Linked DNA regions of Homo sapiens. The protein of the gene in region 1 purifies or fractionates together with the protein of each later gene. This does not show direct contact. Each region holds a gene or a part of one and is shown in the gene's direction. Other genes may lie near its edges. The genes, in order: ADORA2B, RFT1, PTDSS2, VKORC1L1, SLC39A10, PIGG and MPZL2.

Region 1 (4,966 bases):
GGCAGAGGGGTTTTTCTTCTTCTTGTCTTTTTTTAGAGACAGGGTCTCCCTCTTTTGCCCAGCCTGGATGGAATGCAGTGGCATGATCCCAGCTCACTGCAGCCTCGAACCCCTGGCCTCAAAGGATCCTCCTGCCTCAGCCTCCCAAGTAGCTGGGACTACAGGCACCTGCCACCGTGCCTGGCTGATTTATTTTTTATTTGTTTGTTTAGAGATGGGGTCTCCCTACATTGGCCAGGCTGGTCTTGAACTCCTGGCCTCAAATGTTCCTCCTGTCTTGGCCTCCCAAAGTTTTGGGATTATAGGCGTGAGCCATGTTGTCGTCATTACAGCTACATTGAGATATAATTTATGTGCCACACAATGCATGCCTTTCAAGTGTACAGTTCAGTGGCATTGAGGTATATCCACAGAACCGTACAACCATCACCACATTGAGAAAATTTTTATCACCCTAAAAAATCCTTTACAAAATCCTTTACCCTTTAGCAGTCACCCCATGTTTTGATTTTTGCTTTACATGATTTTACAAGCATCTTTTCCTGTTGCTGGAAAATCTCCTTACCCATCCTCTTTGGTGACTGTCAGCAAAGGCTTTCGGGTGGTGAAATAGCGTGGCCAGGAGTGCTCTAGAACAATGGTGTTGGTGAGGGCTGCAGAAGCTGAGGACCCACAGGCAGAGAGGGAGGGATGGTAGAAGCAGGTGGTGAGGAGGGACTCGGGGCAGGACTTTGGGGGTAAAAGGAAGCAAGTCTCTGGAAGCAGAACCAGCAGCACTGCTGATCATTGGGACGTGGAGAAAGGCGAAGGCTCAGGGTGTCAGCAAACTTCCTAGGGTGGGTGAGGGTTGCCAGGTCAATAACGAACAGGGTCCCAGGAAAAGGCGGCAGCACAGGTTTGGGGAGAATTAGAGATGAGCTTGGTTTTGGTCTTGTTGGATTTGGGGGCACCAGTCTCTCTCCTGGCGAGAGTCGGCAGTGGGGTGTTAGGATCTGGCCCTCAGGAGGCTGTTAGGGCTGAAGCAAGAGATTTGGGAGTTAAGGGTGTGAGGGCCACGTGGGAGGCCTCGGGAGCCTGTGCCGATCCAGGGTGAGTGTGAAGGAAAGAAAAAAGAGGGCCCGGGGAACACTGGTATTTTCGGGCGGTGGACGAGGATGGGACGGCCACGAGCTTGTCTTAAGGTAGAAGGCAGAGCGGGGCCGTAGGGGCAGTGGCGCGGGCGAGGGTGGAGAACAGCGCTGAGCCTCGCTGGGAGGCGGCCGGAGGGGGCTGCAGCCCCCGAGGGCTCCTTGCAGTCCGGCCCCGCAGCCTGGAGACAGCTCCGGTGGTGCTGCGCTGCCCGAGACTGCTGCACGAGCGGGGACTGCGGCCTCGGCTCCCTGCCTGCCCGGCAGCCCCCCATCCAGTCGGCCTGCCCGGGGTGCGCAGGGTTAGCCTGGAGTGAGCTCGCCCCGCCCGGGGTTGCGCGGCCCTGGGGGGTCCTCTCGCGGCGGCTCCTGGGACCTGCTGGCGCCCCGGGCAGAGCCCGGCCCCATCCCAGGAGTCGCCCGGACTGGAAGGCAGTGCGAGCACTGGGACACAGCCTCCGAGCTCGAGCGTGACGGGAAGTTGGGGCAATTTGTTAGTTATCCGCCGCCACCAAGACGCGGCACGGCGCCTGGACCGGAGGGGCCCCGCGCGGGCGCGAACTTTGGGCTCGGGCGAGTGGGTGGTGCTCCGCCCAGCCCGAGACGGGCGGGCGCGCGGGCCAATGGGTGCCGCCTCTTGGCCGCGGGGGGCCCCGACCCGTGGGTCCCGGCCACCAGCGCCCCAGCCCCGAGGCTCAGAAGCGGCAGGCGGAGGCGCGGTCCGGGCGCTATGGCCATGCCCGGCGGGTCTCACGCGGCTGCCCCTCGCCCGGCGCGCCTTCGGTAGGGGGCGCCCGGGGCCCAGCTGGCCCGGCCATGCTGCTGGAGACACAGGACGCGCTGTACGTGGCGCTGGAGCTGGTCATCGCCGCGCTTTCGGTGGCGGGCAACGTGCTGGTGTGCGCCGCGGTGGGCACGGCGAACACTCTGCAGACGCCCACCAACTACTTCCTGGTGTCCCTGGCTGCGGCCGACGTGGCCGTGGGGCTCTTCGCCATCCCCTTTGCCATCACCATCAGCCTGGGCTTCTGCACTGACTTCTACGGCTGCCTCTTCCTCGCCTGCTTCGTGCTGGTGCTCACGCAGAGCTCCATCTTCAGCCTTCTGGCCGTGGCAGTCGACAGATACCTGGCCATCTGTGTCCCGCTCAGGTGAGGCGCTCGGCGTCGCCCGAACTCGGGGCCCCGTCGGAGCTCCGAAATGGGTCGTCTTCTCCAGGCCGGGGTTCCTCCCTCGGGGGCCCCAGACGGGCCAGGCTGGGGGCGCGCGGGGCGCTTGGAGGGCTGGTTCCCAGCCTGGCCACCCCGCAACGCTAGACCAGTGCGCCCGGGCACCCAAGACATCCCAGATGCGCGTCGCTCTAAGGAGATCTGCGTAGGGACAGCTCTAGGGGGTCCGGGGAGTGCGGTCCCCGGCGCCCGGGGAGGCGCCGTGGAAACCCCGGGGAAAGCGTCACCCCCGGGGAAAGCGTCACCCCCGTGGGCGGGTGGAGCCCGGGGCGCGGGAGTTTTGGTGATCACATCTCCACTCCTGCCACGAAGGCCGTTCCTAACACTCGCCCGCAGCGGCGGTGCAGCGGCAGTCCCGTGAGTGCTGCGGCTCCCGGAGGCCCGGGAGGTTCCCACTAAGGGCAAGGCAACTTTGGACGCTGGGCATTCGCACCGTCAGAATGGACACGCATGAGCCAGCTTCAGAACGTGTCTGCTGCGGAGAGGCGGCCCGGCCCATCCCAGGGGAAGGTGTCCGTTAACTTTGGGGAACGCTACGGACTCAGATTATATACTTTTAAAAGGAGTTACAATGCTTCCTCGTGTCTGGCAAACGGCCTTACAGCCTCACTGCCCTTGTGTAACTATTTATCTCCTGCTGCCCTGTTGGGAGCGGGCTGAGAAGTGCAGAAAATGGTGGCGAACTTACTTGTCCACTCTTTCTCCCACACTGAGAAAATCTAGGATTCAGGGGATGGAGTCAGCCAGCGACCAGAGTGGATTCCCAGTTGGAGCTGATGACTTCAACATTGAGAGTTTGTTGAAAGTATTTATTCTCTGTCTTTGGTGCCTGGGCCACTTTGGCATTTCTGAGGAGAGCTTGAGATCTCTTTAAATTTGGAGCTGAGACAGGGAAACTAAATCACAGAGTAGGAAGGAAGGGAAGGAATTCATTTATTGGGTGCCAACTCTGTGCAGACAGTTTATAATAAACGTGTCCCCAGCAGTCCTTGCAGTAGTACCAGAGGACGGGTGCTGTAACCTTCATCTCGTAGAGGAGGGGTGATGGCCCAGGGAGGTTGGAGTCTTGCCCAGGATGGTGTATCAGGGATGGGTGTCAGAGCCGGGGCTTGAACTCACAGCTGGCACCGTGTCCCCACCCATGCCATCAGGCCACTCTGCAAGGCCATGTGTGGCACCGTGTTTAGGAGTCAGGGAGAAAAGTGCTCTGCTGTTTTGGGAGGAGGAGCCTGCCTGCAGTAAACTGGTGGTTGTAGGGGAATGTGTTTGTGGGAATGGAGCCGGAGAATGCTCCCAGAGGCCATTTGAGTAGGCAGATGTGTTGGGCCTGGTCCTTGCAGGTTGTTTCGTGGGTCCCAGCAGGAACAGGAGCCTCCTGCTTGGGAGGGCTGTGAGCCTTATGTGGGTGTCTGGCCACTCCATGTGCTGCTGCCCGTGCTGTTGGACCAGGAGGCCTTATGTCTCCCATCAGGTGTGACAGCCCAGGGATTTCCAAGGCTTAGGGAGGACAGCAGTTTCTTCTCTCTCTTCTGGATCCCTTCCCTGCCTTTTGGTGTCATCGTTGTTACTTGATGGCATTTTGGATGTTTTGCATCCAGCAGAGCAGTCACAAGCCCCAGCCTGAGTTGTCCATCTAATGGAAACCCCTTGGACTTGCCCTGGCAGAGACCAGAGACCCAGAGAGGAGTTAGTGGAACAATCTCCCAGGCCACAGGGAGCAGGAAGTTCCATGAAAGTTTAAATCTGTTCCTTCTTGTCCTGGTTTGTGCTGGGTGAGGTCTTGAAAAAAATGGGTGTGGGTGTGTTAAGGGGAAAGTGCTGTGAATCACAGGCCCTGAGCTTCTTTGCATTGCCAAGGGCAGGAGGGAAGAACACTGAGGCTCGCCCCATCCTGCCTTCCTGGCCCGTCCAGAGCTTGGAGGTCTGGAAGAGGTGCACAGGCAGTCCCCAGCTCCCTGCCCCAGAGTTAGTCGTCTGACCTGGCCACAGCACCACCCCAACCCTGGTGGGTGGGAGAGGTGTACTAGGGCCCCCAGGGCTTCCCTCTCAGGGGCTGGTGCCTGGGGCAGGCCTTCCCTCAGCTGGCCTAGCAGTTCATGGCCCCTTGGGAAGAGGTTAAAATACAGATTACAGGGCCTCACCTGGTTGTACTGAATCAGAATCTCTGGAGTGGGTGTCGAGGGGATTCCAGCAGTGGGATCTTTAACCAGGGACATTTGGGTCCAGCGATCTAAGAATCCTCCTAGATTCAGGGCCTGAAGCTTTCCTCACTTGACTGACACAGGCTGGGTGCATGGCGCCCCAAGCACTGACTTGGCCCTGAGGCCTTCCTGGGGTTGTGGAACTCCAGGTGAGAGTAAAGTTGGAAGTGCCCTGTTTGGGAGGAGGTGTGTCCCCTTTGAAGCCAAGCAATAAGGAGGGTGAGGTGCAGGGAGTGAGGGCTAAAGGCTTAGGCTAGGACAGTCCTGGGACCTACCCCCAGTTCCTCCCGGTTCGAGGGCTCCAAGTGTGAGGCCTGTGGCCGCAGAGACCACAGCCCCCACCTGCCACCGCATTGCCAAGGTGTTTACTGATGTGACAGATGACAGTGTAGAAGGGAGGGGAGCCGGA
Region 2 (3,063 bases), on another chromosome or scaffold:
TGCCCACCTGACCCCAGACTCAAGCATGATCCTCATTCTACCTGCCTCGGAATCACCTGGATTGCAAGTCAGAACATGGCTTCCCAGGACCCACTCCAGGCCTTCAGGGTCTGTGTCTCCCAGGAGGAGGGCTCTGAGATTGGCTTTTCTGGCAAGCCCACGTGGCTTTGATGCCACCAAGGTTGGCATGCCCCATTGTCTTCCTTCGTGACAGGCCCAGGACCATCATGCTCATGCTCACAGTGCCTGTTCTCTGCTCCAGGAACAGAGCTGCTGCTCTACAAGCAGCCTTGTGACTCCGGGGTCTCTGGGAGCAGGACTCCCCAGGCTTGTGCTCTCTCAGCTTGAGAGAGGCTCTATGTCTGAAGGCAGTGCTCACTCTCTCATCCCTCCCCTGCTGTTCGCCCAGTGCTGCTGTCAGGGCCAGCTCCTCTTGAAAGACAGCCAGCCGCAAAGGCAGCCCAGGGCTTCTTCCGGTGTCCTGCTTCCCTGTATCTAGGGAGAGTTGTACATGTGGCTGCGTGTTTTCCCAGGACTAGCCCTGCCGCCTGGGCTGTCAGCACTTTGGCAGCAGGTCCTCTGTGGTTCTCTGCCTCTGGTGCCTCCCTAAAGCTCAGCTGGACCTGACCAGGCCTCTGGCATTTCCCCTGCTGGACCCCCTAGAGCCACAGCTGTGCCTCAGGGAGCTTGCATACATGTGGGCCAGCCTGCCTCACTTTACCCAAGTGGATTTGGGGAGCAGAAATCATACTTTTGGCTTTCAATACCACTTATAGTGAGGCTACTTCTCCATGGAAACAAGTCTCTGAGGCACAACCTTTATGAAAGGAAGGAGCATTCGTTGGTGAGAAGAACAGTATCGCTGACTTCCTGTGCTCCTCTGGCCACAGGTAACTGTTGGTCACTTCAGATTTGGCTTGGGGTCTCTCAGTGAGGAGCTGCTGCTGTGCTGTTTAATGCTTACCTGATGGCAACTTCTGGCTCTGGAACCGCTACTCTGCCCTGTTCCCAGCCACTTCCCAACCTGATTCAAGCAGGGCCCCTCCTTCCTCCTGTCTTTATTTATTTATTTATTGAGACAGAGTCTCACTCTGTCGCCCAGGCTGGAGTGCAGTAGCGCGATCTCGGCTCACTGCGAGCTCTGCCTCCTGGGTTCAAGCGATTCTCTTGCCTCAGCCTCCTGAGTAGCTGGGGCTACAGGCGCCTGCCACCACACCCGGCTAATTTTTGTATTTTTAGTAGAGACAGGGTTTCACCATATTGGCCAGGCTGGTCTTGAACTCCTGACCTTGTGATCCGCCCGCCTCAGCCTCCCAAAGTGCTGGGATTACAGGCGTGAGCCACCGCTCCTGGCCTATTCTTTTCTTTTCAGAGACAAGGTCTCACTCTCTCCTCTCGCCCAGGCTGGAGTGCAGTGGTGTCATCATAGCTCATTGCAGCCTCAAACTCCTGGGCTCAAGCAATCCTCCCACCTCAGCCTCCTGAGTAGCTGGGATCACAGGTGTGTGCTACCTCACCCAGCTAATTTCTAATTTTTTTTTGTAGAGACTGGATCTCACTGTTGCCTTGAACTCCTGGGCTCAAGTGATCCTCCTGCCTCAGCCTCCCAAAGTGCTGGGATTCCAGACCAGCCATTTTTTTTCCTTAATCATGCATTCCTGTTGCTAGTTTCACATCAGTCCCCTGGTTTAATAAGAAATAAAATATTTTCTTCACACTTTTGAAAAGACCTTTCTTCTTTCATACCCCTTCTCCCTCCAAAAGGGACAAAAATTCTTTAATTTCATAAGGAGGGTAGGTAAGTAACTTGAGGATGTGAACCTTTGGTGTTCCTCAGCTGGAACGTTTCTCTCTCTGTTGATGTTGTAGCTGGGACTGGGCTTCTTGACTTTGGAAGAGGGATGGTATCCTGGCACCTCCTGTGTCTGGGACTGAAAGGCCTGTGGTGTCTCCTTTGCTCCTCTCCCCATCCCCCCTTAAGCTGTATTTCCCGTTGTTTGCGGGACTTCTCTCCTGTCTTCTCCATCTGGCCTGGTCCTTGTTTTGTTTGTTTATTAAACGGCCATTCCTTGAGAAGTCAGGACTAGTTTCAGCACAGAGCAGGGCAAGTGTGTGATTTCAGGGGGTCTAGGACAGCCCCTTCACTCTAATATCCTCCTCCATCAGGTGATAGAATTTCCTTTCACCTAGTTCAAAGACTGTTATTTCCAGAATTTCCTTTCACCTAGTTCAAAGACTGTTATTTCCAGAATTAGAGAGGATACTGGAAATTCAGATTCCGCAGAGAACTCGGTGACTCATTCACACTAAGATGTAAAATAACCCCATCAAGATTTATTTCCTTTTTGTTCTCTAGTGAGAGGAAAAAAGAAAAAAGAATTCTTTGCCGGGCCAGGCGTTGTGGCTTGCGCCTATAATCTCAACACTTTCGGAGGCTGAAGCAGGAGGATTGCTTGAGCCCGGGATTTTGAGACCAACCTGGGCAACACAGGGAGACCCCATCTCTACAAAAAAATTTAAAAACTAGCTGGGCGTGGTGGCACGCACCTGTAGTTCCTATACGGGAGGCTGAGGTGCAAAGGATTGCTTGAGCCCAGGATTTCAAGGCTGCAATGAGCATGTTCGCGCTCCAACCTGGATGACAGAGCAAGACCCTGTCCCCCCACTCCAAAAAAAAAAAAAATTATTTCCTGAGCAGCTTTTGATGTTGAGGAAGAGACAGGCAGGAGCTGGGAGCATCCAGAACCTGGAGGAGGAGGGGCTCAGGTGAGAGGCTGGGCAGGCCCGGACGGTGGGAGCTGTGAGTGTTGCTGTGTGGCCTCTGGGATGGATGGAGTTCAGTTCACAGTGGGAAATCAGGGGCAGCATGATCCCTGGCCTAGTCTTAGAAGAGCCATGGCTGAAAACGGGGTGGGGACTAAAGAAGAGAGAGAATCCGAACAGGGGATATCCTTCACATATTTTATTTATTTTTTGAGAGAGTCTCGTTCTGTTGCCCGGGCTGGAGTGCAGTGGCACGATCTTGGCTCACAGCAACTTCTGCCTCCCAGGTGCAAGCAATTC
Region 3 (4,336 bases), on another chromosome or scaffold:
CCCCCAAACACTCCTGACTCTTCTTATCCTAACCGGGGTCATCTTACTCTCCTCACCGAAATCTGATGTCACCTGTATGGAGGAAAGGGTGGGCCTCATGGAGGGGCAGGCCAGGGACAAGGGGACTCCTGGGCCCCAGCTGAGCCCAGCCCGTTTCCCCTCAAGGGCTGTCTCCAGGAGGACACGTTCTGTAAGTGTAGTGTTCAGCAGAGGGTGAGTTTCTGGGTCGCCGAATCCAGGCACCCTTAGGAATGGGGGCCTAAGAGGGCCTTCTGACGTGGGTTCTCTGCTGTGATTGTGGGCAGGTCTCTCAGTACTGAAGGGCCCCACGGTGTGGAGCTCAGCAGGAAGGCTGAGGTTCCCTGCGGTTTCCTCATGGCTTAGGACTCAAATGCAAATGTATCTAAAGAAAAAGGTGGTTGATAGTCACAATGAAACTTTTATTTACCTCTGGTTGTCTTAAATGCCTAGTATTGTAAAATATGGCAGAAGAATTCACTTTCATGCCTGTAATCCCAACACTTTGGGAGGCCAAGGTGGGCAGATCCCTTGAGTTCATGAGTTTGAGACCAGCCTGGAAAACATGGCAAGACCCCGTCTCTACAAAAAATACAAAAAAATCCAACCTGACCCACATGGCAAGACCCCATCTGCACAAAAAATACAGAAAGTTCCAGCCTGGAGCCTCCACCTGCAGTCCTGCAGCTCCACCCTGGCTCTTCATGAAATCGGCTAAGTCCAGGTGTGGGTGCGTTCAGTGCAGCACCCACGTGCAGGTGACACGCCCATGCACCGCCACAACCACGCTCACACCAGAACATTCCATCATCCGGAAGGCCCGTGTCTCCGCTCCAGTCTGCTTTTCGTGGATGCAAACTCATTTCCTTGAGTCGTGTGTGGGTGACAGCAGATGGGAGGTTTCTTTTGTGCCTGGCGTCTGTAGCGTGTTTTTCTTTTTCTTTTTTTATCTTTTGAGACGGGATCTCACGATGTTCATGATGTTGCCCCGGCTGGTCTTGAGCTCCTGGCCCAAAACAGTCCTCCTGCCTGGGCCTCCCAAGGGGCGTGTCTTTGAGATCTATCCACGTTGAGGTCGTTGCCAGCAGCACATTCCTCTGAGTGCTGAGCCATGCTCCGCTGGTCGGAGGGACCACAGTGTTTCCTCCACTGATAGAGTTTTGGTTTGTTTCCCGTTTTAGGTTATTATACCTGAAACATCTGCATGTAAGTCTTTGACTGGACCTGTGTTTTCATCTGTCTCAGGCCCACGTTTGGGAGTGTGTCTTTGACTGGACCTGTGTTTTCATCTGTCTCAGGCCCACGTTTGGGAGTATGTGGCTGGCTGGATAGCAGACGTAGCATAGGCCTCACTTTTCTGTGCCGTTTTGCAGTCCCACCTGCAGTGCGTGAGCATCTTGCTCCGAGACCTCACCAGCACTCTGCATTGTGATGTTCTTAATTTCAGCCGTTCCAGCAGATGTGCACTGATGCTGTGTCGTGGCTTGGATTTGTGATGCTTTTAATTTCAGCCGTTCCAGCGGATGTGTACTGATGTGTCCTGGCTTGGATTTGCTTTCACGGTGACCAGTGCTGCTCCTCGTTTGTTCATGTGCTTATTGGCCATTTGTATGTTTTCCTTGTGAAGTGTCTGTTCAATTTTTTGCCTATTTTTTCATTAAATTGTTTATTGAGCTGTATGAGTTCTTTATAAATTCTGGATAAAAAGTATTTTTTTTCTTTTTTTTTTTTGAGATTGAGTCTCGCTCTGTCGCCCAGGCTGGAGTGCAGTGGCGCGATCTCGGCTCACTGCAGGCTCCGCCTCCCGGGTTCACGCCATTCTCCTGCCTCAGCCTCCCGAGTAGCTGGGACTACAGGCGCCCACCCACCACACCCGGCTAATTTTTTGTATTTTTAGTAGAGATGGGGTTTCACCGTGTTAGCCAGGATGGTCTCGATCTCCTGACCTCGTGATCCGCCCGCCTCGGCCTCCCAAAGTGCTGGGATTATAGGCGTGAGCCACCGCGCCTGGCCTGATTTTTTTTTTTTTTTTTTTTTTTGAGACAGATCTTGCTCTGTCTCCCAGGCTAGAGTGCAGTGGCACAATCATCCTAGCGCACTGCAGCCTCAACCTGGGCTTAAGCGAATCTGCCACCTCCCGAGTAGCTGGGACTACAGGTGCCTGCCACCACGCCTGGCTAATTTTTTATAGAGATGGGGTCTCACTGTGTTACCCAGTCTGGTCCTGAACGCCTGGGCTCAAGCAATCCTCTTGTCTCAGCCTCCCAAAGCGTTGGGACTACAGACGCGTGCAGCCTACAAAGTTTTATCAGATATATGTATTGTGAATATTTTCTCCCAGTTTGTGACTTGCCTTTTCATTTCTTTAGGGCACAAATAGTTTACATTTCATGGAGGCAAGTCCTGGGCAACATGCTTTAAGTGCATTGTTCACTTAATTTTCATGATGTCCTTGGAAGTCAGAAGCTTCCCCATTTAGATATGAGGAAACTGAGGCACGGAGGGGTGCATCATCTCTCCAAGGACACACTCCAGTGGATGTAGGACCTGGGTTAGACGTGAGGACACACTCCGGTGAATGTAGGACCTGGGTTAGACGTGAGGGGACACTCCGGTGGATGTCGGACCTGGGTTAGACGTGAGGACACACTCCGGTGGATGTCGGACCTGGGTTAGACGTGAGGACACACTCCGGTGGATGTCGGACCTGGGTTAGACGTGAGGACACACTCCGGTGGATGTCGGACCTGGGTTAGACGTGAGGACACACTCCGGTGGATGTCGGACCTGGGTTAGACGTGAGGACACACTCCGGTGGATGTCGGACCTGGGTTAGACGTGAGGACACACTCCGGTGGATGTAGGACCTGGGTTAGACGTGAGGACACACTCTGGTGGATGTAGGACCTGGGTTAGACATGAGGAAACTGAGGCACAGAGGGGTGCATCATCTCTCCGAGGACACACTCCGATGGATGTAGGAACTAGGTCTCTGCCTCCATTTGCAGATGGTCATGCAGAGGGGGTCTCAGGCGAGTGTCTGGCACAGGCAGTGGCTGGGGTCTGGTGGCCCCCAGTTCTGATACTAGGCTGGTTGTGGGCTTTTCCACCAGCGATGGGACAGGACAAGACTGCAAAGGGAGCGCCCTGCCTCCTCCTCCCACGTCTGGGCTCTGACAGGCCAGAGGACGGGCAGACCCACGGCTCGTGGCTCACTCCAGCTAGCAGCGGTCACTCTGCAGGCCTCTGCTCAGGCCCCTTCTCAGCTCTTGGTGTCTTGGGCTGCTGCACTGAATCTCAGATGTTATTTCATGAACCCAAAGAGTTGTTGTCTCGGCTTGTCTTGCGCAGTGAAAAGCGCGTGTTTTACGTGTCCAGTTGCTCTTAATAGCAGATACCTGCCCTGGACGCCAGTGGCAGCATGTGCCCTCTGAGCAGCGGCCTTCAGCTTCCCAGGAACACGGGGCTCTTCCTGTCCAGCCTCCTGGGGGCTGGTCTCAGCCCTGACTGGCCAGCAGACGCAGGGTCATCTCGGAGTTACCCAGCTAGGGACTCGCAGCCAGTTGCTGGTTGGGAGTTGGAGAGTGGAGTTTAAGCCCTCTCCTTGACGTAGAGAGGATTTGGGGCCTGTTACGTGAGTATTTAGCAATGCTGCCCAAGCTCTGACACCATGCTTATGCGTTTTTGGATTTCAGGCGAGCCCACACCTTAACCGTGCTCTTCATCCTCACCTGTACGCTTGGCTATGTGACGCTGCTGGAGGAAACACCTCAGGACACGGCCTACAACACCAAGAGGTAAGCTGCCCTCTTGTCCTGCCTTCTGAAACTGCCCTGTGCCCCGTGTGGTGGGTGTGGCACCCTTACTGCTCGGGCTGCCGGGGGCTCAGAAGGCCTTCACCAGAGGGCTGCGTGGGGCCGCCGGCCTCTCCCTTGAGTGTGTCTGATGTGCAGACTCCAGGGCTGCCCTTGGTGCTGCGTGGCGTTCCCGGTCAGCCCCCGTCGCCTGTCACTGGGAGCCAGGAGTCTGTGTCATCTCCACGTGACCGGCAGCCTGTGCTGCGTTTCCTCTGAGTTTTGCATGTTGAGGTTGGAACGAGCTGCAGCAGCTACAGGGCTGAGCCCTTGAGTTTGGGCGTCTCCGGGGGTGAGGTTCCTGCGGTGGCCGCGTGCTGGTTCCGTTAGCCAGCGGGGCTCTTGCACGGACAGGGGCCGACACGGACCGCAGACCATCTGGTCAGCAGCCAAGCGAGTAAACTCGTCTTCTCAGGTTTATCTCCACAGGCAGGCAGGCTAGACCTTGGGTGTGTCCTCTGCCT
Region 4 (4,328 bases), on another chromosome or scaffold:
AACTTTTTCAGTAAAGGGCCTGGCAGAAAATAGGCTTTGCCAGTTGCCGCAGCCACTCAACTCTTCTAGTATGAAAGCAGTCACAGACATTACGTAATGAATGACATTACATAAATGAATGAGCATGGCTGGGTGCCAATAAAACTTTATTTACAAAAGCAGGTAGCTGGCCAGATTTGCTAGTCCCTGCAACAAGTAATTCAGCAGCACCTTAGTCTTGAAGTGCCCTATGAAAGCATCTAGGCCCGTGGCTGTGCGGCAGCCGGCCCACAGGCGTCTTCTTGTTGCATTTTTTTTTTTGCCAACAGGGCCCAGGATTTCAGCTCTTTAACTGACTTCTTTATACCTGCTCCCACCTGTTATTTTGTTCCTGTTTCTGTTATCCTTATCCATGAGTCATTGGGTAGGAGGGTAGTTTAACATGCTCTGCCTTCTCTGTCCTTGAAAATAAATGCACATATTCTCTATACTGTTGCCTATAAGAAATTAAAAACAATACATGTGAAGATAGAGTCCAGAATTCAGGTGCCTTTTTTTTTCCTTTTTTTTTTTTTTTTTTTTTTTTGAGACAGAGTTAAGACTCTGTCGCCCAGGCTGGAGTCCACTGGTGCAATCTTATCTCACTGCAACCTCCGCCTCCTGGGTTCAAGTAATTCTCGTGCCTCAGCCTCCCTTGTAGCTGGGGTTGCAAGCGTGCAATACCATGCCCAGCTAATTTTTTTTTTCTCTTGTACTTTTTAGTAGAGAGGGGCTTTCACCATGTTGGCCAGGCTGGTCTCAAATTCCTGACCTCAAATGATCTGCCTGCCTTAGCCTCCCAAAGTCCTAGCATTACAGGCATGAGCCACTGTGCGTGGCTTCAGGTGCCTTTTTGTATTGAGAGCCTGGATTTAGCACACATGTCCACCATTTTTCTTGATCAGGTTTGACCCACATGCAGCCAACGGGCAAAATGTGGTTTCCCTTATCCACCAGGGTGAGCCCTTCCTGAAATGTTTATCAAGAGTTTCTTTTTCTCTCTTCAGCAGCTTGTTGGTGTAGTCACCTCTCATTGTGGATTTTTAATCAATTTGATCTAAACATGGAAAAGCAAATTTTACTTTCCACAGATGGGCAGGATGTAGTGAAAGTCCAGAGAAGGTTCTCACCAAATGTGTGCAGCTCGGAAGAAAAAGGTTGTGGTCCTCATGTCCCGTTATTCATTTGGTGTCTTGGGGCTGTTGATGTTACAAGTCAGCTTCATTGCTTAATGTGATTGTGAGATTGCATGTTTTCTTTGTGTGCATATTTTCAACTAGGCTAGTTTGTGAAATTAGTAATGTTTTACCTGAAAGATTGAGAAATCAAAAACATCACAGCTATAAAACTGGCATTTGGCTGGGTATGGTGGCTTATGCCTGTAATCCCGGCACTTTGGGAGGCTGAGGCAGGAGGATCACCTGAGGTTAGGAGTTGGAGACCAGCCTGGCCAACAAAAAATCAGCCAGGCGTGGTGGCACGTGCCTGTAATCCTGGCTACTTGGGAGGCTGAGGCAGGAGAATTGCTTAAACTCAGGAGGTAGAGGTTGCATGAGTTGAGATTGTGCCACTGCACTCCAGCCTGGGCGGTAGAGTGAGACTCCATCTCAAAAACCCCAAAACCTGGCATTATCAACTGCAGAGTCAACCTGTATAATTTTAACAAAACAGAGCAGTATTTCTGTTCTCAATTTTCAGAGTTGGCAGGAAGATCAGTATTCAAACACTGCAGCAAGTCACACAGTGTTATTCCTTGTCACTCAGAAAGCCTCTCTCCAGCACCAAGGCCTGACTGAGCCTGCGTCTCTTCTCTTACAGGCATGACAGCAAGCGCTGTGGCGGCTTTGATCCTCATGACGTCCTCCATCATGTCGGTCGTGGGGTCCCTGTACCTGGCCTACATTCTGTACTTTGTGCTGAAGGAGTTCTGCATCATCTGCATCGTCACGTACGTGCTGAACTTCCTTCTTCTCATTATCAACTACAAACGACTAGTTTACTTGAACGAGGCCTGGAAGCGGCAGCTGCAACCCAAGCAGGACTGACGCCCGACAGACTCCACCCTAACAGTCTCAAGCCCCTTTCCATTCAGTTTATTTTGCAGCAGGTTTTTATTATTATTATTATTATTATTATTCACAACAGACACTTTCCCTAAGAATCTCAAACTGATTTTTAAAAATCCGGTAAATTAGAAGGGGCCCTCGCTATTTTCTGTGTCAGTCTTCATTTTAAATATGGATACAAAAAGGATACGCCGAGCCAATCAAAGACAAGCTTTAACTTTACTTTGAAGTGTTTCTGAAATGATAAAATGTAGCCCTAGCCCCCTGCCCTCAATTGTAAAGTGAGCAACCATTGCTAGTAATTCTTTAATGTGTATAAATTCAATTTCAGGTATAACAAATGTGATCATGACATGAAAATATTCTAGAATAGATACTGTATTAAATATTGCCATGTTTACAATATGTAATATGTTTTTAGCCGATGGATTTAAACATGTAGATTCAACTAGAATCCATTTGTGATATTTGTAAATAAAGGTAGAAATATTAGATCCATTTCTGCAGAACTTACTGTACAGTTTAGTTGGAGTGTAGCACTGAAGAACTGTCAGCTCAGCGTTGACTGAGGAGATAGTGAAAATAGCCTATACACAGCATCTTGTGAAAAGTACTGGCAGCCGTGGTTGCAGCAAATAATAGGGCAAAAAAAATAATAATAGGGTGGTCGGTTCCCTTTCATCTCCCTCTTCTGAAAGGAAAAAATTGAATTGGAACGTTCAAGTCCAGTTTGTGTTCAGTCATAAAACTGGGCCAGTTGTTAACCTTACAGAATGAGTCATGTGGCCAGACCTTCAAGTCCAAGGCCTTCAGACACTAAGGATGGGAAAATGGGTATTTTTCTTTGGAGAAAAGCTGGAAATATAAACATGGCATTTTTAGGTAAAGTTTCTTCCACTAGTTGAATTTTCATGCAGATATTTTTCCTTAACGTTGGTGCCAGTCAAGCAAAGAGTATTATGATGGAAAAGACCAGTCCAAGCCCCATCGCTCCGGAGTGGGAGCCAGTGTTCTTGCTAATTGTTTCTTTCTGCACTAACCACTCAGATGTCTAATTTAATTGTTTTGCAGTCAAATACTGGATTTGTAACCTTCAGGGCTGACATGCTGCCCAGTTTGCTTCATCGGGAGAATAGCAACAGGTAGACACATCTCAAGGCTAAATCTGCTCATGTCGCCACTGCTCTCATAATGACACACATGCAGTAAGAAGACTTTTGTAAGGGGATTTGAGTACACCCAAATGAAATTGTGACAGGATGTTTGTATGGTTAACATCTGATATCAGAATGTTAAAAGTGCCTTCTGTCTTAAATCTCAAACCAAATATTTTGTGTGTTGACCTTGGGCAGAAGAAGTGTCCTTCCCTCCTTTCTTCACCGTCAGGTAGAAAACCTGCACTCTGCAGAAGGGTCCTGTGTGATCACTTAATCCTCTGGTTGAGAAGCAGCAGTAATGTTTTTGCTTCCAACCTGATTAATCATTTTATGTTGAAAATAGTCAATGAGACCAGTATCTCTTGAGTGCTTTATTTGCCTTCTCTTTGAAGGGAGGGGACGGGCTCTGCTCTGTAAACTCAAATGTGTAGAGTCAGCAACAATTCCGTAGCTTCCAACTGACTCAGAATTGATGCAACGTAGGTCTTCTGGCCCGAGGCAGGTATCAAGTCCAAATCATAATGAACTTTTCACCAGTTTCAACCAGTTTCTTAAAAGAGAGCTTAAGTCAAGATTTCATCAAGACTTGTGTTTTCCCATGAATGTGAATCTTTCAATGGCTGTTGGAGTATGTATGTACTGTTCTTGCATTCTGAAGTAGTTAAAGAACTCTAGAAAGTACTGATTGGCCATCTGGTGTCTATGGAGAAAGAAGTCCTCACGTTTGAGGGCTGTACAGTGAGGCCATCTTGTAGCAGCGCATCCAGCTCTACCAAGGCAGTCCTCTGGTTCTTTTTTCTAAGCTACAGTGGAAATGGCCTAATGGTTAAAACTGTGGTATACATGACATCGGTTGTGCTAAACAAGTTCCTCGTGTCCCAATATCCAATGGTTTTTCATCCTATTTTGTATCAATCAACAGAGTATAGTTAAAGCTTGTCTTGATGTTGCATTCTTGCAAATGTCTTCAACTCTTACCTGAGAAAACATGGCAAAATGGTCAGCCAGACCCTTCCAGTTTTTCCTTTGCTTTTCTAAGCCTCGGGGAAACCACTGTTTCAGTTGTATAAAAACTTTTGCCACATTC
Region 5 (4,336 bases), on another chromosome or scaffold:
CCGCCTATGTCTCATGTCTTCTTTCCCTTCCCCTTTCCCTCCTATCTTCTCACTCCCCTCATAAAGCAATTCAAAACTGCATGCTTACAGGCCTTTAAACAAATATTTTGGTATATTAACTCAGTGCACTTCTACTGAAGATGACTCCTTACATTATTTTGCTTGCATGTGAAGAAATATACTTTGCACTGTGTTATAGAGGAACATAGCTTCTTGATGAAAGGGGCTAGGGAAAGATTTATTTAAATACTTTATCAATATAAATGAAACAATACATGGTGTGTTACTACATTATAAAATGAGATCAGTAAAACAATGTAAGAAAACGTAATAATAAGATAGTATAATATACACATAACGTATTCTGTGTATATATACATTATAAGGCAGTGAGATCATGTTTTCTATTCCCATGGACCTTTTTTAGAAAAGCATATCATATTTTCATAATTTTTTAATGTTTGGAATATACTGTTTTTAAGATTTTGATTTTATGGTGTTTCAAGAATATAGAAGTTATGAAAAAAAAAGAAATAAGAGAAAAGTAAATTGTATATTAAAACAGAAAAAAGATTTGGGTTTTAAATTAGGATAGTCTATAGTTTTTTTCTTTTTTTTTTTTTCAACTTTTATTTTAGATTCAGGGGGTACATGTACAGGTTTGTTACCTGGGTTATATTGTGTGATGCTGAAGTTTGGGGCATGAATGATCCTGTCATCCAGGTACTGAGCATGGTGCCCAACAACTAGTTTTTCAGCCCTTTCCCTCCTCCTTCTCTCCCGTTTTTTCCAAATAAAGTGAATAATTGAATGTATATAACATCTTATGAAAGCACATACAGTGTACATATAGAATTTATTTTCAAGCAAATAATCATGCCAGTTAAAAATTGAAAATCAGAAAGGTATGCTAAAGTTAAATCACTGAAATATATTAAGAAAAAAGTTCTTTAAATTCACTGTAAATATAATTTCATGGAATATATAATTTCTAAAACAAATTCTTAAATCTTTTTCTGTGAAGATTTTTGCGTAAACACAAGTACTTAAGGTTTTTTAGTTAACTGATATGTGTGTGAAAGTGTTGGATGTTAGTGCAACTGACATTTTTCTTTTTCCTAAAAAAGAAATAGATGTTAGGGGTTTTAGTTTTTTAGGAGTTATTTTTAATTATAGCTTTTCTTTTAAAAAAAAATAAGAAAATATACACTAAAATATGGGGAGAAAAAACTTTTAAAATTTAGCAGCAGTCATAGAAGAAATTGCAGAAACCTTAATAAGTTTCATTGCATGTACATGAAAACATCTATACATGAAAGGGAAAACATGATCAAAATAAAAAGGAACAGAACTGCAGGGTTTTTGCAGAAAATGTGACTGAATCATGTTATGTAAAAGCTCATATATGTTGGAAAAAATATTGAGACATCAGGAATAACTTTAAAAATATGAATTAAAAATAAAGTAAGACCTTTTATTTATTTAAAAATTTATAATAATGTGAATGAGAGTGCTATGATCATACTGCTGGTGGCAGTATAACCAAGCTTAATTTCTCTAGAAATCAATTTGGAAAGTAAGTATATGACAAAACCTGAAAAGTGTTAAAGTTTTTATAGTTTTTCCCCTCATCTTGGAATTCATTCGAAGCAAGTAATCAAAGATAATAGCACAAATTGGAATTAAAATGTTTGCATATTGTGTTTCAGACTGCAAACAGGCTGGGTGCAGTGGCTCACACCTGTAATCCCAGCACTTTGGGAAGCCGGGGTGGGAGGATTACTTAAGGCCAAGAGTTTGAGACCATCCTGGGCAACATAGGGAAACCACCATCTCGACAAAAAATTTAGCCCAGTGTGAGGTCGGGCACGGTGGCTCACGCCTGTAATCCCAGCGCTTTGGGAGGCTGAGGGGGGCTGGATCACCTGAGGTCAGGAGTTTGAGACTAGCCTGGCCAACATGGCGTCTCTATTAAAAATACAAAAATTAGCTGGGTGTGGTAGCAGGTGCCTGTAATCCCAGCTACTTGGGATGCTGAGGCAGGAGAATTGCTTGAACCTGGGAGATGGAGGTTGCAGCGAGCAGAGATTGCGCCATTGCACTCCAGCCTGGGTGACAGAGCGAGACTCTGTCAAAAAAATGAATAAATAAAATTAGCTGGGTGTGGTGCTGCGCACCTGTAGTCCCAGCTATGTAGGAGGATGGCTTCAGCCCAGGAATTTGAGACTTCAGTGAGCTATCATTGCACCACTGCACTACAGCCTGGGCAACAGTGGAAACCTGCCTCAAAAAATAAATACTTGAAAAACCCACAGACAAATGCTTGTGAAAATCTTAAAGCTAGAATTCATTTTCTTCCACATGTGACATTATTTTATTGGTTTGTCAACTAAAATTTAATTTATAATTGCCAACTTTTAGGTTTTTTTCAAAGTTATACATGAATATAGTTTAAAGAATCAAATAGTTGTGTGAAGTTTCTTGGGGGGAAAAATCAGTCCCCTGTCTGTTCCTTTCATATTCTGCCTAGAGAGATAAGGAACCCCTTAATTCCTTTAGTTGATTATTTTGCTATTCATTACCATGTCTCCAGATAACATGTTCATTACTTGCAGCTGATTTTCAGTTCTAACCATTATCTATTTAATGAAGAATGATTTTAGTGCTCTTTCACTTCTGTGCATACCTTCCTATTTCCTGTACTCCAGTTTCTCCGTACAATTTTCATTGTAATTTTGGTTTAGAACAGTAATTGGGGTTACATTTTTATGCTATAAATATTATTTTATACAATGTGCCATTGTAATAAATGACTACTTTCCTGCACAACTTTGTTTTTTCTGGTAATAATTAGCTTGATTTTTTTGTCCTTTTATTTAATATGCATATATTAAAAGACCCCAGCTCTGTGTTTCTGAATGTAGCTATATAAGAAAGGGGAATGTGGTCAAGACTCTATGTTCAAGAATTTTATGTAGTTTTAAAAAATTAATTGGACAGAAAGCTCCCATGTTGGGGAATAAGTAGCCTCTGTGTTGTCTGAAACATAAAAAAAGTCAATGTTATACAAAGATTGACTTGGAGATTTTTTGATTATTTTTTTCCCATGACGTCATGGAAAAGAAGGATCATTTTAGCTGGCAGTTTTTACAATGGCAAGCTGGTATAAAATCAAGGATGTATAACAGTGACAAGACACTGAAAAAGGGAAGGGTGAAAATGCATGGAATAATAAAGATTTGAGGTAGTGCAGCAGTAGCTATTTTTAGAATAAAGACAGCTGTCAGTGATGAGTGGAAAGAGAACAATAAGCTGTTGCCAGGCTGGAGTATAGTGGTACGATCACAGCTCACTGCAGCCTTGACCTCCCGGGCTCAAGTAATCCTCCCACCTGAGCCTCCCAGGTAGCTGGGACTACAGGCATGGGCTACCACACCTGGCTAATTTTTAAAACATTTTCTGTAGAGATGGGGTTTGGCCATGTTGCTCAGGATGCTCTCAAATTCCTGGGCTCAAGCCATATGCCTGCTTTGGTCTCCCAAAGTGCTGGGATTACAGGTGTGAGCCACTGCATCTGGCTGGTTAGCACTGTAAGTCTGCTTCATAATGCATGTAACTAAAATCATAAACATTTTAGTAGCTTCAAAAGACATCCCAACGACTGCATTTACTAATCTCAGATGTTTGTATTCACAAATAGCAGAACAGAGGTAGCAATATTACAGGTAGCTTTCTCCAATATGGTTCCAGGTTCCCTGTAATGAAAGGCTGAAAAGCAGAAATGCAGGTAATTGTTTTGACATTTGATGAGAAAATGTAGGTTTGTACATGAATGTATAGAATACAATAAAGATAGATATGATGTGTTGTTGATTGATTTGATACTTTAAATCAAGGTATAAATGTTTATATTCTCTCTCAAGTTAGTGAAACAGGAGAACTGAGTTAATGCCCAAGCTTAATTAGCATGCACTTAACTTTTTACATGAATGAATCTCAGTGGAAAGATTGGGTTGCCTGAACTGTGCTTTTATTTATTTATTGGAAGAGTTGCAGTGGCATTCCAAACTGTGAATATGATTTCCAGTAGATTAGATAGCTGGTGAAGTAGGGGGATGAAAAAGCAAACCATGAAGCTGTAAGAGGATTTTGTGGTCCCTGCTGAGAACTCATTACTAAAATACTTTTTATCCCTTGAAGAATATTCTAATGTCAGTGAAACTGGTAAGGTGTAGTGAGTCTTTCCAACTTCTGCTCAGATACTAGTGAATTGGGTGCCTCCTGCAATCTAGAGCAGGTCTTGGATGTGCTAACGATGCATGTGCTCTTGTAATAT
Region 6 (4,336 bases), on another chromosome or scaffold:
CAAGGCGGACGTTTTCTGTTGGAATTCTTAGTCCTTGGCCTCGGACACCTTCATTCGTTAGCTGGGGAGTGGTGGTGAGGCAGTGAGGAAGAGGCGGATGGTCACACTCAGATCCACAGAGCCCAGGATCAAGGGACCCACTGCAGTGGCAGCAGGACTGTTGGGCCCCCACCCCAACCCTGCGCAGCCCTCATCCCCTCTTGGCTTGAGCCGTCAGAGGCCCTGTGCTGAGTGTCTGACCGAGACACTCACAGCTTTGTCATCAGGGCACAGGCTTCCTCGGAGCCAGGATGATCTGTGCCACGCTTGCACCTCGGGCCCATCTGGGCTCATGCTCTCTCTCCTGCTATTGAATTAGTACCTAGCTGCACGCAGTATGTAGTTACCAAAAGAATAAACGGCAATAATTGAGTCCTCATCTTTACTTTTGACTGCTTTAAGTTAGTATATTTAAGAGACAGTACTGTGATGCCAACTTTGTCATTTCAACAGAATTAACCATTTTAGTGGAAACGTTCTGGATTTCTAGAATATTCCTGGAGAAATTTGAGGTCTGGTTTGGTGGGATGTATTGTTGAGGTTCTTTGGTTTCAAGAAGCAGGCACTGGCGACGTGCATCTGAAGACCTAAGCTCTTCCAGAGCCTGGAAGCGGGAGCGTGGAGGGCCGGGTCCAGGAGCCTTTGGGCAAGCTCTCTGGGCTGCACCACTGCCCAGAGGGTTCTGACCATTTTCAGTCTTTGTCACTCACCTTGGGACTTGGAGTCCAGTGTGAGAACAGCTGGCTGGCCGTGCAGTGTCCGGCTCCCCTGCCTGGGCTGAGGGCGTCTCCACTCCTGCAGGCTGCGTCCCAAGAGGAAGGTTCCTGCCGTTGGAGCAGAAGGGGGCTGTTCCAGAGTAGGGGCCCAGGTGCTGGGTGTGAGGAACAATGGTGTGTGTCCAGGGCATTCTCTGCTGTGAGCAAGGACTTGACATGCAGCAAGATGTGTGTCGTTATCAGACCGTCTCTTACAAAGTGCACTTTCCTTTTCACAGAACCCCATGCATCCCAGCTCAAGGTGGTCAGAGCTAGACCTTCTTATTCTGTTGGGGACGGCGGGCCACGTCTTGAGCCTGGGCGCCAGCAGCTTCGTGGAGGAGGAGCACCAGACCTGGTACTTCCTTGTGAACACCCTGTGTCTAGCTCTGAGCCAAGAAACCTACAGAAACTACTTTCTGGGAGATGACGGTGAGCCTCCGTGTGGCCTCTGTGTGGAACAAGGGCATGACGGGGCCACAGCAGCGTGGCAGGACGGGCCTGGCTGTGATGTCCTGGAGCGAGACAAAGGCCACGGAAGCCCCTCTACCTCCGAAGTGCTCAGAGGCCGCGAGAAGTGGATGGTGCTGGCCAGTCCGTGGCTAATACTGGCCTGCTGCCGGCTGCTGCGCTCCCTAAACCAGACAGGTGTGCAGTGGGCTCACCGGCCTGACCTCGGCCACTGGCTCACCAGGTGAGAGCGTAGGCCCGTGGCCACAGGCCAGACTTTCTACGGCCGATTGGTCACCTGCCAAGCTCTTCTTTTTCTAAATTGAGACCATTTTTCATATTAAGAATGGGATAGTATTTGAGATCTGAAGAATTGGGAAAATACACTAAAACCAGTGTTTTACTGGATACTAGAATCAATGTTGAGAAGTGAATTTATTTGGGGGCTAGCCTAACAGGTTTCATTTATTAGTGCTGAACCACTGTAACTGTTCATGATTGAAAACTTGTGTTTCAGTGATCATTATATAGTAAAGATGCTATGTGGGGGTCAAGCTTGCTAGTGGCTTGTTCTGGACGCCTCGTCCATGCCTGGGCTGTGTGCCCCCCGCCCATCACTCAGTGTCTGCCTGTGTCAGGCCATTCGTGTGTTGCTATAAAGAAACACCTGAGGCCGGGTCACATGTAAGGAAAGAGGTTCATCTTGGCTCTCAGCTCTGCGGGCTGCACAGGAGGCATGGTGTCGGCATCTGCTCCTGGAGAGGCCTCAGGAAACTGGCGGTCATGGCGAGGGCAAAGCAGGAGCCAGCACTTCACGTGGCGAGAGCAGGAGAAAGAGAGGGATGAGGAGGGTGTCCGGCACTTTTAAACATCAGCTCTCTTGTGAACAGCCACAGCGAGAATGCGCTCATTACTGCGAAGATGGCACCAAGCCATTCGTGAGGAATCTGCCCCCATGACCCAGACGTCTCCCACAAGGCTCACTTCCAACACTGGAGGTTCAGTGTCTTTTTTTTTTTTCTGAAACGGAGTTTCACTCTGTCACCCATGCTGGAGTGCAGTGGCACGATCTTGGCTTACTGCAATCAAGAGATTCTCCTGTCTCAGCCCCCTGAGTAGCTGGGATTACAGGCGCCCGCTACCATGCCTGGCTAATTTTTGTGTTTTTAGTGGAGATGGGGTGTCACCATGTTGGCTGGGCTGGCCTTGAACTCCTGACCTCAAGTGATCCACCCACCTCGGCCTCCCAAAGTGCTGGGATTACAGGCGTGAGCCACTGTGCCCAGCCTGAAGGTCCAAGTTCAATATGAGATTTGCAGTGGACAAACATCTAAGCCATGTCATTCCCCCAGACCCCTATCCTGCTGCTGATGATCCCCAGGGCAGCAAGAAGGACGGGGTCAGCCAGGCAAGGCAGGCGCAGCCTCTGTGGGCCAGCTTTGCCCTTAGCAAAGCTCCTTTCTCCTCCCCATCCTCCCTTTTCTCTCTCCTCATCCTGAAGGGACAGAGCCGTGTGGGGGAATTCAGCCACCTCCTGAGCCTTTCATTGGCGACTGGAAAACCACCTAGAAAGTATAGCAAATCATTTCAAGCAAGGCTCGAAATAAGTAGAAGAAACCAGGACAGAAAAATAACTAAGATTTGCCGAGACTTAAATTTTAATTGTCTGGCAGTGAAGACTTAGGAAACTAAAGCAAAAGAAGCAGCACAATGAGAGCATCTGCGGCGAGAGTAACAGCAAGGGTTGCGGTCCCGTCACTGCAGAGAACTCCTGTAAGAAATGGCAGCAGAAGGAAAAGGGAAATGCCTAGTCCTAGTAATGAGGGCACTTCCAGTTAAATGACAGGGTGTGACTTCATACCTGCTGAGGCAGAGAAGCAGAATTGAATGACGAGACTCAGTCTTGGTGAGCACGTGAGGATTCCTGGGGCCACGTTAGTGGCACAGTTCTTTTGGAAGATACTTGTAAGTTTACATCAGAAGCTGCGAAATTACAGATTCTTCTGATTAAGTAATTCTTGTGGGAGGCTAAGCATTAACTAAATTACGAAAACCTCGGTTAGCCAAGTCATCGCAGATGGGTCCTTCTATCTGCCTGCTGTGTGCCTGCACGTTTCCTTTCCAGAGAAGCCCCGGAGAGGGGACTTTGGTTGGTCCCCACTCCAGAGGTGAGGAAGCGGAGGGGGGACGGGCTGCTGGGAGGTTGTGCGGGGCACGCCAGCATCGGGGTGGGATCCCAGGCATGTAGAGCAGCCGGGTGTGTCAGGGAGCTCCGTGTCCCGGAATAGCACTTTGACACCTTGTTTCTTACTTTCCTGGAAAATTAAAGCATTAGGAAAGAATTGGCTGGCTTTCCGCCCCACATGCAAGAGCCACCCCCAACCGCATTATCCGCGGTTTTCCTTACGCGAGGTCAACCATAGTCTGAAAATATGACAGTTATTTTGAGGCAGCCCACATTCATATAATTTCTATGACAGTAACAATTATATTGTTATAAATGTTCTATTTTATTATTATAACAATCCTGAAGATTGTGTAAAAACGCGTGCCATTTAAAAAGCAACAATACACAGACACCCAGGTACCCCTTCCCGGGGTGAGGCCCAGGCCCCCGTGTGGCCCCAGTCTCCCCGTCATCCTGGGAGGCTTTGAAGCGGGAGCTGCAGTGAAAGAAACAGAAGGGAGCCCGGCCTTCCCCACCCTCACACAGGCCAGGACTGGCTGGTGCTGCACCACCGCATCGCGGTCGGGACTCCGGGCTCTGCCCTCTGACAGGCCGTCAACCTCTGCACCATCTCCTCACCCAGGAGCGGGTGACAGCAGACCCTGTGAGGCCATGTGGGTCTAGGGACGTATCATGCGTTACTGAGTTAATGGGAGGAGGCAGGAGAGGGGAGGTGAGCTGGTAGGTGCAGGGCTGACCCCGAGAGGGTACCAGGGAACAAGAGGACGGTTTCTATTTGTCACCGCCTGGCCTCTGGGCATCCACATCTGATGGTGGGAGACCCGTTTGTGAATGAGAAGTGAGAGTTCAAGTTAACTGTCTTTTTTTTTTTTTTTTAATGAGTTCTCACCATGTGGCCCAGACT
Region 7 (4,336 bases), on another chromosome or scaffold:
GTTCTTATTGTCCATTTGTATATCTTATTTGGAGATGCATACATTCAGAGTTTGCCCATTTTAATATGGGGTACATTATTTCACTTATTCTTGTTGAACTGTAAGAGTTATTTAAGGGATACTAGTTCCTTATCAGATATACAACTTGCAATTTTTTTCCCATTCTGTGGGTTGTCTTTTCATGTTCTTCATAGTGTCCTTTGAAGAACAAAAGTTAAATTTTGATGAAGTCCAGTTTATTTTTTCTCTTTTGCTGCTAGTGCTTTTGTGTCTCATCTAAAAAACCACTGCCTAATCCCCAAGATCATGAAGATTTATGGCTATGTTTTCTTCTAAGAGTTTTATAGTCTTAATTTTTACATTTAGATCTTTGAGTTCGTTTTCGTATATGGCTGAGGCAGAAGTCCAAATTCACTCTTTTGCATGTGGATATCTAGTTGTTCCAGCACCATTTATCTCATTTCCTTAATAAATATTTAATGAAATAAACAGCCTTTTTTTTTTTTGAGACAGACTTTCACTCTGGTTGCCCAGGCTGGAGTGCAATGGCATGATCTCAGCTCACTGCAACCTCCGCCTCCTGGGTTCAAGCGATTCTCTTGCCTCAGCTTCCCAAGTAGCTGGGATTACAGGCATGTACCACCATGCCCAGCTAATTTTGTATTTTTAGTAGAGATGGGGTTTCACCATGTTGGTCAGGCTGGTCTTGAACTCCTGATCTCAAGTGATGTACCTGCCTTGGCCTTCCAAAGTGTTGGGATTACAGCGTGAGCCACCGCGCCTGGCGAAACAGAACTAATTTTAAGAAGCCTAACAAACCCAACTCTGAGGTTCTAGTTTGAATAGAACCAATAAAGATGACTTAGGTCAACACAAAACTTTTTATTTTTTTTTTGAATAACAAATATAAATTAGAGGTGGGATACTAATGGTAAAATAAGGTGTCTGCTTTAAAACTCTGGAGTTCCCGAATCAGAACCCAAACTGTATTCCCTTACATTCTGAAAAGTCTCTAAGTTCAGAGGTGTGAATATTATTAATTAGATGGCACCAGTTTAGCTCTGTGTAAACTTCAATCTACTCCCAAGTGCATGTAATTCTTCCAAAAATATGGGGGAAAAATACCTTACCTGAAGCTTCTGTGGGATTTACCCACTTGCTTCTTGTCTTGTTCACCTGACATTTGGTTTCTGCTTGTTACAGAAAAGAAGAGGAAAGGCTCAACCAAGAGAAAAAGGTCTCTGTTTATTTAGAAGACACAGACTAACAATTTTAGATGGTAAGGTTCACAAATAGGTTGATTTCTTTCTTCAGCTTTCTGACATGTCCAGCCCATCTCTAATGAGGACTCCCAGATCATCACTTTATGGCTGTTAGGTGTTTCCCATATGAAATTAGAGGAGCTGGGTCAGGGAGACAAAAGTCTTCTATTAGTCTTATGGATAGCTCCTCCTTGAGTGTATTTTGTGCAAAAGATTAAGAAGCTGGACTCTACTGCCATTAAAGCTGAGAGAATCCTAAGGTTATTTGTGGCTTCGGGGTTATATTTATTACTACTACTACTAATAAATATTCAACAAGTAAATAAATCTTTTTTAAATCAAAAGATTAGTATCTGCTTATTCTTTTTTTTTAATTGTAAACCAATTATGGTATTAAGAGAGTGACTCAATAGACATATCTGGCAGTTTTTACAGGAGAGCTTTTGTACTATTTGGAATTGATTTCAACTCCTCTCATTTAGTTATTGGCACTAATAACTACATGAAATGAATCCAGTTTTAGTAGCGTATAATTTTATTTTTCCAGTTTTCAGGTTCATCAGGCTTAAAAAGTAGGATAATTTATTTTTCTTGTCTTTGTTTTTGAGACAGGGTCTCAACCTGTTGCCCAGGCTAGGGTGTAGTGGTGCGATCTCGGGTCACTGCAACTTCTCCCTCCCAAGCTCAAGTGATCCTCCTACCTCAGCCTCCCAAGTAGCTGGGACCACAGGTGCGCGCCACTACACCCAGCTAATTTTTGTACTTTTTGTAGAGACGGGGTTTCCCCATGTTGCCTAGGCTGGTCTCACCTGAGCTCAAGCGATCCACCTGCCTCAGCCTCCCAAAGTGTTGGGATTACAGGCATAAGCCACTGCGCCGGGCCAATTTATTTTTCATATGCTCAGAATTTCTCCCATTCTCTGAAATAGGTCCACACATTTAATTTCTAGATGTTATAAATCCGGACATGCAAACTTAAATTTTACGCTCATAAGAAAGTTCTTGATATTAATGACTTTATCCTGTAAAACTCTGGCTCTGTTACACGGGAGAACATTTTTTACAGACCGTTATTAGTTGCAAAGAGGGTCACATTTTTATAGGCTAAAGCTCCAGTGAAAGACCTCAAGGATTTATAAAATAGAATATGGAGTAAAATGATTGTATTGTAAAACCAGAAAACCAAAATTAACATTAGGGAGTTTTTACCAACCAACGGCTATTGTCTTTTTAAAGTTAAGGGGATTATCTAACAACTTGGGGTCATGGAAAATAAATATGGGAGATGTTTTAGATCAAAAGAAACTTAAGAGATGAACACAATCAAAGTGCAATGTGTGATCCCCAACTGGATGAATAATAGTGTGAACAAGCTAGTTGTAAAAACAAGCTTGGAGGGGCAATTGGGAAAGTCTTGAATATGAAAATGTTAAATATATGGATAATATTAGGGAATTATTGTTAGTTTGTATTAGGTATAGTGATGGTATTGTAGTTATAAAGAAAATGTACCTATTTTGAAAAATTCTTACTGGAGTATTGGGGTAAATGTCAGCAATTTACTTTAAAAGCATAGGAAAAAAGCAAATAAAACAAAAAAGGCTTCAGAATTAGGTGATGGGGGAGATGAGGGGAGAAAAGAAAAGAAAAGAATGAATTAATGAATTTAAGGGATGGGTAAATTCCACATACTCTGTTCTCTACTTTTCTATATGTCTGATTTTGTTTGTAATGAGAGTGAGAAGTGGGGAGAATATGGGATGTATGTGTGTGAACAAGTTGTGGGTCATCCAAGTGTCCATGCAAGGTACTTAGAGGCCATGATTTAAGGATACTAACTCTGAAAATTATGTAATAAGGATTAGGAAACTTCTTTTAAAAATTAAATTGGGGGAGAATATGAATACTTTCCCTCAGAATATTTTCCTTCTAATAACATATATGTAATTCATAATGCCAAGTATTCCTATTGTACTCTTCTCAAATATATTATCCATTTAAACTTTTGTTTTGTGTTTTAGGAAGCTGAGATGATTTCCAAGAACAAGAACCCTAGTATTTCTTGAAGTTAATGGAAACTTTTCTTTGGCTTTTCCAGTTGTGACCCGTTTTCCAACCAGTTCTGCAGCATATTAGATTCTAGACAAGCAACACCCCTCTGGAGCCAGCACAGTGCTCCTCCATATCACCAGTCATACACAGCCTCATTATTAAGGTCTTATTTAATTTCAGAGTGTAAATTTTTTCAAGTGCTCATTAGGTTTTATAAACAAGAAGCTACATTTTTGCCCTTAAGACACTACTTACAGTGTTATGACTTGTATACACATATATTGGTATCAAAAGGGATAAAAGCCAATTTGTCTGTTACATTTCCTTTCACGTATTTCTTTTAGCAGCACTTCTGCTACTAAAGTTAATGTGTTTACTCTCTTTCCTTCCCACATTCTCAATTAAAAGGTGAGCTAAGCCTCCTCGGTGTTTCTGATTAACAGTAAATCCTAAATTCAAACTGTTAAATGACATTTTTATTTTTATGTCTCTCCTTAACTATGAGACACATCTTGTTTTACTGAATTTCTTTCAATATTCCAGGTGATAGATTTTTGTTGTTTTGTTAATTAATCCAAGATTTACAATAGCACAACGCTAAATCACACAGTAACTACAAAAGGTTACATAGATATGAAAAGATTGGCAGAGGCCATTGCAGGATGAATCACTTGTCACTTTTCTTCTGTGCTGGGAAAAATAATCAACAATGTGGGTCTTTCATGAGCAGTGACGGATAGTTTAGCTTACTATGTTTCCCCCCCAATTCAATGATCTATAACAACAGAGCAAAGTCTATGCTCATTTGCAGACTGGAATCATTAAGTAATTTAATAAAAAAATTGTGAAACAGCATATTACAAGTTTGAAAATTCAGGGCTGGTGAAAAAAATCAACTCTAAATGATGATAATTTTGTACAGTTTTATATAAAACTCTGAGAACTAGAAGAAATTATTAACTTTTTTTCTTTTTTAATTCTAATTCACTTGTTTATTTTGGGGGAGGAAGACTTTGGTATGG

What was found.
Region 2: the proteins of ADORA2B (region 1) and RFT1 purify together in Homo sapiens (affinity purification with mass spectrometry; one large-scale study listed by BioGRID and IntAct). This does not show direct contact.
Region 3: the proteins of ADORA2B (region 1) and PTDSS2 purify together in Homo sapiens (affinity purification with mass spectrometry; one large-scale study listed by BioGRID and IntAct). This does not show direct contact.
Region 4: the proteins of ADORA2B (region 1) and VKORC1L1 purify together in Homo sapiens (affinity purification with mass spectrometry; one large-scale study listed by BioGRID and IntAct). This does not show direct contact.
Region 5: the proteins of ADORA2B (region 1) and SLC39A10 purify together in Homo sapiens (affinity purification with mass spectrometry; one large-scale study listed by BioGRID and IntAct). This does not show direct contact.
Region 6: the proteins of ADORA2B (region 1) and PIGG purify together in Homo sapiens (affinity purification with mass spectrometry; one large-scale study listed by BioGRID and IntAct). This does not show direct contact.
Region 7: the proteins of ADORA2B (region 1) and MPZL2 purify together in Homo sapiens (affinity purification with mass spectrometry; one large-scale study listed by BioGRID and IntAct). This does not show direct contact.

Annotation. Positions count from the first base shown.
Region 1 is NC_000017.11:15,943,306-15,948,271, forward strand, and holds the start of ADORA2B (adenosine receptor A2b), read left to right. Parts: upstream 1-1,824; 5' UTR 1,825-1,943; coding exon 1,944-2,278; intron 2,279-4,966. UniProt on the Homo sapiens protein: Receptor for adenosine. The activity of this receptor is mediated by G proteins which activate adenylyl cyclase.
Region 2 is NC_000003.12:53,087,147-53,090,209, reverse strand, and holds the end of RFT1 (man(5)GlcNAc(2)-PP-dolichol translocation protein RFT1), read left to right. Parts: 3' UTR 1-1,727; downstream 1,728-3,063.
Region 3 is NC_000011.10:456,474-460,809, forward strand, and holds part of PTDSS2 (phosphatidylserine synthase 2), read left to right. Parts: intron 1-3,713; coding exon 3,714-3,815; intron 3,816-4,336. UniProt on the Homo sapiens protein: Catalyzes a base-exchange reaction in which the polar head group of phosphatidylethanolamine (PE) or phosphatidylcholine (PC) is replaced by L-serine. Catalyzes the conversion of phosphatatidylethanolamine and does not act on phosphatidylcholine.
Region 4 is NC_000007.14:65,952,238-65,956,565, forward strand, and holds part of VKORC1L1 (vitamin K epoxide reductase complex subunit 1-like protein 1), read left to right. Parts: intron 1-1,836; coding exon 1,837-2,063; coding exon of another isoform or gene 2,064-2,176; 3' UTR 2,177-4,328. UniProt on the Homo sapiens protein: Involved in vitamin K metabolism. Can reduce inactive vitamin K 2,3-epoxide to active vitamin K, and may contribute to vitamin K-mediated protection against oxidative stress.
Region 5 is NC_000002.12:195,663,182-195,667,517, forward strand, and holds part of SLC39A10 (zinc transporter ZIP10 precursor), read left to right. Parts: intron 1-4,336. UniProt on the Homo sapiens protein: Zinc-influx transporter. When associated with SLC39A6, the heterodimer formed by SLC39A10 and SLC39A6 mediates cellular zinc uptake to trigger cells to undergo epithelial-to-mesenchymal transition (EMT).
Region 6 is NC_000004.12:522,426-526,761, forward strand, and holds part of PIGG (GPI ethanolamine phosphate transferase 2, catalytic subunit), read left to right. Parts: exon of another isoform or gene 1-418; intron 419-1,033; coding exon 1,034-1,488; intron 1,489-2,745; coding exon of another isoform or gene 2,746-2,813; exon of another isoform or gene 2,814-3,379; intron 3,380-4,336.
Region 7 is NC_000011.10:118,254,181-118,258,516, reverse strand, and holds part of MPZL2 (myelin protein zero-like protein 2 precursor), read left to right. Parts: intron 1-1,203; coding exon 1,204-1,267; 3' UTR 1,268-1,279; exon of another isoform or gene 1,280-1,606; intron 1,607-3,283; 3' UTR 3,284-4,336. UniProt on the Homo sapiens protein: Mediates homophilic cell-cell adhesion.